2 separate regions of the Homo sapiens genome follow, and region 2 is linked to region 1. Evidence: fine-mapped expression QTL. A gene starts in region 1. The other region holds a variant in brackets. All regions are shown on one strand. Distances are from middle to middle.

Evidence for each region. PIP is the estimated chance that this variant, and not a neighbour inherited with it, causes the effect. A credible set is the group of variants that fine-mapping cannot tell apart.
Region 2: its variant is the best candidate, but not a certain one, in a credible set for the expression of STK38L in pancreas (GTEx, PIP 0.66).

Annotation. Positions count from the first base shown.
Region 1 is chr12:27,242,126-27,246,522 of GRCh38, reverse strand. STK38L (serine/threonine kinase 38 like) reads right to left here and starts at 2,237. Exons shown (of 14, transcript NM_015000.4): 1 at 2,191-2,237. RefSeq lists enhancers at 829-878, 3,467-3,526 and a silencer at 2,169-2,408.
Region 2 is chr12:27,288,371-27,292,767 of GRCh38, reverse strand. The region is part of intron 1 of STK38L (serine/threonine kinase 38 like); the gene reads right to left. LOC124902905 (a long non-coding RNA gene) reads left to right here. Exons shown (of 3, transcript XR_007063254.1): 1 at 1-1,364; 2 at 3,101-3,199. Among named protein-coding and RNA genes, the nearest start is that of BMAL2, 42 kb to the left of the region's middle. The variant G/A (reference allele first, on the strand shown) is at 1,749.

The sequences.
Region 1 (4,397 bases):
TAACCTAATCATAACTTGCCAATCTGCTGATTTTAATGTAATCCTAAGGATGCTAGACAACAATATGCTTGCTTGATTCACCTGACACTATTTACATAAAATAAAAGCATTTTAACAATACATCGAGATGCAAATCTTTCTGGCTCTGATTTGTGCCCTTTCTCCCTCTTAACAAAAAGTGCCACACACACACAAAAGAGCCTCCAACTTATCCTGGATCACTGGGGAGGCACTTTCTAAGGTGCGTTATCCAATTTCACTAACACAATGATGCTCTCCTTACTTTAAGAGAACAGAACTTTTCTGAAAGCAAACAGCTGAACTGAGTCCATTGCTTTGTTATCATTTTTTAGGAAGTCCAATTTCTCCTTTGTTCTTACAGTGTCCTACCTTTAGAAATCAAGTTTTCAGCATAAAAACTAACAAGGACATCTATTTGTTGGCACAAATCATCTCAGTCTCCATTCTTTGACTTATTTTAAAACAAACTCAAGAGCAAATGGCTAGAGAAAAACTGCTTCTATTTAATGTGTGTTTTCTAAGTCTAATTTTTTCATTCCTAGTGGCAAGGCCTTTCAAAAGAGTACAAAAACTACACCCAACTTTGCTTCTCATTCTAAACACATCACAACCAAATGGGAAACATTATCAGCCATCTTAACAAGGAGAAAACAAAGCTAAGTGAGGTCAAACCAAAACATTTTTTAATTCATTGTACCTACCTATTTTGAGATCAGGATTTTTCAGATGGAAGTAGTTTGATGAACTTATGCAATAAAATTATGTAATATCATAATTTAACATAATATTTTAGACTAACTTCTCTCTCCTCAAATAGTCACAAGGGTGGCTAATTCACATACAATACCTCTCAGCCACTGGGGAGAGAGTATAATAAACTTAATTGTTTTACATATCCTGAGGCACAGAGAGAAAGGCCAATCAAATTCAAAGAGGTTTACAGTACCTTATATACATATATGATTGAGACAAAGAACTTTCAAGAATCTGTACTGAGGAAGCAAAAATGGGCTTAAGTACAATAGGCCCTGCCTTAAAGTAGAGAGACCGGTCAAACGTAAGCCCCAGCGCCAAAAAAGACAAGGTCTCACTCATCAATCCCCATCTTACAATCAAGAGGCAGAACTTAAATCACTTAAAGCTGTTTTTTCAGATTTGAGCAGTAAAATAAGCTAATAGGCCATTTCCGATTAAGTGGCTTCTCTCAAAACTTATCACAAGTTATGTGAAATGGGTAAAAGTGTTGGTTCTGCATTTTATCAAGTGAGAAACAATAGCATCCTACTTTTGGACAAGCCACTACTTCCAGAGCCACTAGCCCTCCCCCCACCTCCCACTTCTTTTTATATCATTCCTCCAAACTTAGAACCCGAAAAGCTATTCCACAAAACAAAAGCAGCACCAGTAAAAGGGGAGGCCACTGGTTTTGAAAATAAAGTTTGTTCTTTTGCTGTCAACCTGGCAACTTTTTAAAGGTGAAACGTGCCCTACTCAATCGGTTATACTCTTTTCTACTCCCACACCAAATAACCACTCGTTCGACCTCGATACTAAAGGTGAAAAAAGGAGTGGGAGAAATGATTTTGAAAGGAAGGGGCTACGGGTGCAATGGTAAAGACAGATTCTAAGACTGGTTTTGAGCACTCCGTGGCTTCTAGGAGCTGGGAGGCTTTCCTGAGTCTGTCTTGAGAAATGTTTGGCAATCTGACGCATCAGTTTTTAGGAACGGTACACAAACAGCCCCCACAATTGAAGAGCCATGCTTCGGATCCTGGCTCTGGGTGACATCGGCTGGAGGGCACGGGACGGGAGCGCTGGGGCTACCCGGAGAGGATCCGCGACATTTGTTATTGTTTGTGAAGCCCAGGCGGGGACCCGGAGCGGAGTGCTCGGGGGCCGGGGAGTGGAAGGAGAAAGGAGCAGAGGACAAAGATTCCTCCCCGGGTGCGAGGCTCCCTCTCTGGACACATGGGGCCAGTATCACCCCGGGGAATAAGAGGGCCAAGGCCGTCGCCGCAGGTTCCCCGGAGACATTTCCAGCCCCAGAATTAGCCCGGCTTTCCCTGGACACCCAAAGACACCTAAAATCTCCTCCTGCTCCTGCTCGCAGAGTTGGGGCTGGCGCGGCGAGCTCGGGCCCTCAGCCGAGCGCTACATCCGCGAACTCACCTGCCTCCGGTCGCGCCCGCGGCCGGCTCAGCCTCCGCACGGACCGCAGCCGGCCGGGCGCCCGTCAGCTCCCTTCTCCCCGCTCCGCCCTCGCCCCGCCCCCGGGAGGTGGGACCCGCGGCCTCGCCGGAATCTCAGGGCGGCCTCCCTGAACTCTCGCGAGCCTTGCCTCCTCGGCTTCTCGGTGGCTGGGTCGGTCCGACTCGCCCTGACGTCATACGCACCACAGCCGGAAGTAGCCTTCTGTCGTCAACGCCCGTCTTCCCGGCCCCACCCATCTCCGCCTGGTGAAGGCCAGACTGGTTTTGAGGGAGTTGACTGAACTGTCGCCACTTCCCCTCTCACCAGCCTCACCTCACTGCCGTTTTTACGCCAAACCTGTTCAGGCCTCTCTTGAGAGTGGCCTAATGTGTTGCGACATTAGTCACATTCTAAATGTCATCCGAATTTTTCAAACAGTGCAATGCAAAGAATGTTAGAAATGGAAAGAGAGAATTCACGCATTTTTCAGATTGGGAAACAGTTGTCAACAAAGATGGATCAGCTAAGTTGCTCAGTCGGTAGCTGTGGGGACTCGAAGCCACCCAGGTTCCTTGACGCTTCCATTTCACCATGAGGGGACTCCAGAGACTGGAGAGGAACCAGGATTTGTAAATGCCACAAAAAATACATTAAAAACCTGTTTGAGTTTTCTTGGAAAATCTAAAATAACTACAGTACTGGCCTGCTTTATCAGTAGGATCTGAGAATTGTGCAGAAGAGCACTCCCCTATAGGATGACCCAAAAGGGACAACTTTGGGAAGGTTGATGCAATTTGCGTCTGGGGACAAAACTGGCCTTTGGGAAAGCCAAATGAGAGAATGACTCCCAATTATTGTTGGCAAGTTTATCCTCAATATGAGTATTGGAGGTCTTATAAAATATTCTTAGCTTTTAGCTTACTGAGACAACGTATGAAGCTGGTACTGTGCTTGCAAAAACTATCACTTAGAAATGCCACCTGTCATCTTTAGGTTTCCCAAGAGCAGGTGACACGAGCAAAACACCTAGGAAAGAAGCATTACCTCATTTCTCTTTCTTACACTGTGCTTTTTCATACATAGCTTAGTAGTGGGAAAAGCTCTAGTTTGGTAATTAGTGTATTTTTGGGGAGATCAGCTCCACTTATATGGTCATTTTGAAACTCAAATGACAGTTGTCATATACAAGCATAGGAGGTTTAATTGTGATCAGACAAGCTTGACAGGCCTATACACCCTTCTCCCTGTACTGCACGCATACACATACCATTCAAATGCTACGATAAGATTGAGAACAGTGTATGGTTTGTTCCACAGCAAATTTATGTCTTCAAATGTGCCATACTAGAGTAATATGAACTAGTATAGAGTAGCAGTCTAGGTTAATATGGGATAGCCTAAGACTTTGACCTCTAGTTCCTAAATTCTCCTAAATTGAGACCATTGTAAACAAATTTCCCTGGGAAGTTGTTGAAAGTACCTCAACTGAAACAAATTAGAGCTATGAACCAGAATTTTGGTGGTCTATGGACCCCTTTTCAAAACAGTGTTCTTAAATGCATAAACTACCTAGGGTTACAAAGGAAATTGATAATGTTAACATACAGTTACCAAAATACTAAAAAGTGAGTTTGTAATATAATTATGTGGTAAGTAGTAGTAGCATCTAAGATGGCTGCCAATGATCCACGCCTTCTAGTATTCCTGCCTTCTGTAATTCCCTTCTCTAGTAACTTAGTTCTTAAAAAGGAAATATAGCAAAAGTGATTAGGATATCATTTCCGTGATTAGGTTACAAAAATATTCTGGGCTCCATCTTGCTTGTCCTTGCTCTCTCACTTGCTCGCTTTCATGGAAGCCAGCTGCTGTCTTGTGACCTGCCTTACAGAGAAGCCCACATGGCAAGGAACTGAGAGAGATCCAGTCAACAGCCACCAAGGAATTCAGGCCCCCAGTCCAACAACCTGTGATGAACTGAATACTGCCAATAATCATGTAAGTAAGCTTGGAAGTAGATTCTTTCCCAGTTGAGCCTTGAGATGACTGCAGCCCCACCTGACACCTAGACTGCAGCCTTGTAAAACCAGATACTGAGCCAGCAGGCCCAACTAGCCAAGCCCAGATTTCTGGCCCACAGAAACTGTGAGACAATAAATATTTGTGGTTTTAAGCCACTAACTTTTGGG
Region 2 (4,397 bases), 46 kb before region 1:
TATATAATTTAGTAATGATTATGATGTTCTTTCCATTGTAGTTACACATACATGTATGTCTTGTTTAAAAACCAAATAAGGGCAAAATCTCCATCTATTTATCTTTGTAATGAAAGCATCGCAGTACCTGGCAAAGTGATGAGCACACAGTAGGCAGTCTGTAAGTGATGGTAACTCAACTCTAATGTAATAGATTTTAAATTATATGTGTGTTTCATATATAATAATTTCATTTGGGTTAAGAAATACAGAATCATTTGGTATTCTATTAGCCTTCAGAAATAAATCTTACTTAAGAAACACATTTGCAGAAAAAACAAAAATCCCACCCTTACTCATGATTATACAATATCTTGTATAGTTTAGCTTTAAAGATTAGCTTTAAAAACAAGATTAGCTTTAAAAACAAGATTAGCTTTAAAAACAAGAAAAATTTGTTTCCTTCTTACCAGACACAGACAGACTTTTAAAAATTTAAATTATACAAAACTAAGAAGTGATCAAATTATTACAAAGAATGGTCTAGATGACTGGCACTTATTGTATTGCAAATGTATTCCTTTAATGGATTTAACACTGTTCTTTTTGTTTTATTAAAGCCCTTTCTTTGGCCAGAAAAAGAACAGGATACAATTTGCAAGTCTAGAATTCCTGGACTGATAAAAACAACACAAGGTGCCCTTGAATTTCCTGTTCACGTGTGTTTTCTCCAGACTGCTCTATTCATTAATGGAGACACTACCAATAGTTAAGTCCAACATTCTTTTTTATCAAGCCTGGGGAAAGGAGATAACAAATCTGGCACTCAGGCCATTTATAAATAGATGTGGTATCTCCAACCATTTACCATCAAATTTCTAAAGGAAGAAAATAGAACTGCTTTACCTGGCTGTAAAACAAATTATTTAACTGGTGATTTCACCTTAGTTTTCACATACTGCATTTCAGAGGAAGGAGTGTCCTTAATGCTACTATATTGCCTTGTAGTATAAAAATTCGCCTAAATTCAATTCACTAGTTGCAATCATAATGCCCTAGGCTACAATAAGTCCTCAGATTGTACACTGTATAAACTGGGTCCCTAACGAAAGGGCAGCTACAGCTTCTTTCCTCTCTGAGGCACAGTCTAAAATGCAAGAAATTCATAGGTGAAGTTTCAAATCCCAGCATTAACTTTCACTAATTGTTTTATTTTCAACCAACATTTATTGCAGATATATACCATGTTGACTGTATGAAGTGCTGAGAATAAGACTGATAAAACACAGTTCCGGCCCTTAGGGAGTTCATGATCTTATGGAGACACAAAGTAGGGAGAAATCAGTGCTTCAAGAGGAAGGATAATCAAAGGTTTAATACAGAAGGTGATGCCTGAACTGAATCTTGGAGGGGATGGGGCTATAGTAAGAGTTCACCAGTCAGATGGACTCAGAGGAGGAAGAGCTGTAAGGCATGAAATACACTGACACACTTAAGCATACCGATAGACTGAGTATATTTGATTAAATGGCAGAAGATGAAGGTAGAAATAAGGAACTTTTTTGTCATGTTAAAAATTATCCTGAACATAAATGGGAATCACTCAAGGCTTTTAATTTAGTGAAAACCTAACAGCCATTAAAGAATATTTATTGAGTTTTTACCCAAGTACCCAGAATTCTTCTAAGAATATTACATTCTTAGAAGCATTTAATTCTCCTAACCAGCCCTCAAATCCTATCTGATTTGCACTTCGGATAGATTATGCT[G/A]GTACAGGGAGGATGGCCAAAAGGCTGGAAGTACAGATCAGACTAGAGGAAGTAAATCTGCTCAGGAGGCTTAATAATGAATAGTCAGAGATTACAACCTGGTAGCCTGCAGAATCATTTTGTTAGGCTTGTGCTACAATTTAGAAAGTAGAAGGTTTCACATGAAAATCCAGGTTTCTGGTTTCTCCTGAAAAGTCTGATCTGTCCACAATGAGCTCTGTCAGCTCCACAATGACAGCTGGAGCAGAGCTGCAGCCGGCCCCTTACAATACAACATCCCACCCGTCCACCAACTCTCCATTCCCACGTGCCCAGACTCATTCACTTTTTATTACCCACATTTTATTACCCACCTGCTTCCTTTACAGCACATTTGAGATTACAGAATAGTGAGGGACTAATTAAGATAGTAGCAGAAGTGAAGAAGCCTCAGTTAGTCAGCTGGAAAGACTAAAGTCTCTAATTATCTCTAAGTTTCAGATGTGGATGACTGGGTAAATGATCAGTAAGGACAGAAAGTATAAGAAAAGCTAGTTTAAGGCTAGTTTAAGAAAGTTAGTTTAAGGCTGATCCTGTCTGAGTTATTTAACCTGAGTCAGGATCCACATTTCTAAAATGGAGATCATAAATGCCAACCTTATAAGGTTGATATGACGCTTTGATGGTGGCAGAGCACAGGATGAAAGGCCAGATTGCCTGGGTCTGAATTTTGGTGCAGCCATTCACTAGCTGTGTCACTTTAGGCAAATTAAACTTTAAACTTTCTGTGTGTCAGTTTCCTGTTAAATAAATATAATAATAGCCACCTTGTGTGCATGCTTATTATGATAATATAAGACTTAAGATAATTCTAAAAGTTAGTACTTGTAAAAGGACTGAGATACGTCATGTGTTTGATAAATCAATAAATCAGTAAAAAATATTTTTAAAGTATCTCCTAGCACATATTAATGCTCAAAAATTATTAATTTTCTTCCCTTCCCTGCTCAATCTTCCTGCTCATCCCTCCTGCCTTGGGCTGCTGCCATTGTCAGTTAGTTTGTAAATTTAATCTCTAATAGACATTCCCTCTCTCTTCTGATCTTAGCCTACTTCTTTGACAAATTAGATTACTTCTAATGGAGAGGGGAGAGAAATGTAGCAAAAAGAAATATTTAAAGTAAAAAAAGAACTCTTGGTAGAAGCCTTACTAGAAGTTAGTAGTGATTTGGGGTAGAACTAGAGGTAGAGGTGTTCCAGGGAAGAGCTAACCCTTTCTCTCACAAAAGAGTGATTCTCATGAGGCAACACACACCAATTTATTTGTAATCTCTTTACTGTATCTGCTGTTAATAGCTTTTGTTTTTATTTAGCGTGGCCCTCTCCATGTGGCGTATGCCCTGATCACTAGACCAGAGGAATGCATTTCATAAACAGACACCCTTGTCTTTGCTCCTTCTGTGAATCATAAGGTTGGTGATGATGGCACAGTGGTGCTGAACTCAACATTAGCATTTTCATTTTCAAAACTGTTTTCGAAATAGTTTTCCTATGCACAAAAATATAGTTCAATGGTTGAGTACCTGAAAGCTTATTTGGCTGTAGTAATGATGTTCATGGCAGAATACCTGAGTTTATTGGTCCAAATAATTACTAAAAATCCCTCTGAACTTCATTTTTTTTTAAAACTTGCAATGAGAAGGGGAAAGTGTTTATAAACCAAATGCAAACAATTAAGAGGTAAATTTACCAAAGCAGCAATTTTATTTAAAATTCTATTTACCGATCTTAATGTTTAGATAAACTATCACCCTGTCTTTCTCAAAAACATTCAGAAAGAAGCAGTCTATTCTTAAAATATTTATAAAATTTAATTGTTCTATTGCTATATGCCTATCTGGTAGTGCACTAGATTTTGTCTGCAAAAAAATGTTCAGCTGAATCAAGTCATAGTTAACTTTAAAAAATTACCTCAGCAGAAATGCCACATAACTTCAAATACTTATAATCTAGCACCTCGATGGGAAAAAAAAATCAATGCCAACTTTTAGATAGTATGGGCATCCCTAAAAGAATTTTAAATCAGTTTCTATTACTGGCACACACACGAGCACATACAGAAAAATATTTGTCTTGATTGATATAAAAGAGAAAAAAAGCCACAATTTGCAAGAAGGGGGAGTAAATGGCAGGGGGGAGGGAGATGATGGGTAACGAAGGTGAGGGGAGACCAGAGTGAGTATGTCAACATTATTTGTAAAGGAGGAAATATTCAGAGGTAAAACAAAATGAAAACAACTGGGAAAAAACAAATTTATAAATATATATATAAAATGATATATCTTTATGTTATTCATATTTAATTATAAAATATATACAGAAATTTATAGAATTTATAAAGATGAATTAAGTGGCCTAGGGAAACTTTTGGAGAGCATGAGAGCATGGTTGGGGGAAAGACAGATATTACAGTGATCTAGAGAATTTGGGGCCAACAGGTTTAAACTATGGCTCTGAATTGTGGGTTTGGATGAGTGAGATGATAGCTAGTGCACCCAGAAGGATCTATCCTTCCCTTTGCCTTGTCAGCTGAGCCATGCTTCCATCTATTAATACATCCAGTAACCCAATATCATGAGTTTTCTTCTATATTTTTCACTTTTGTTATAA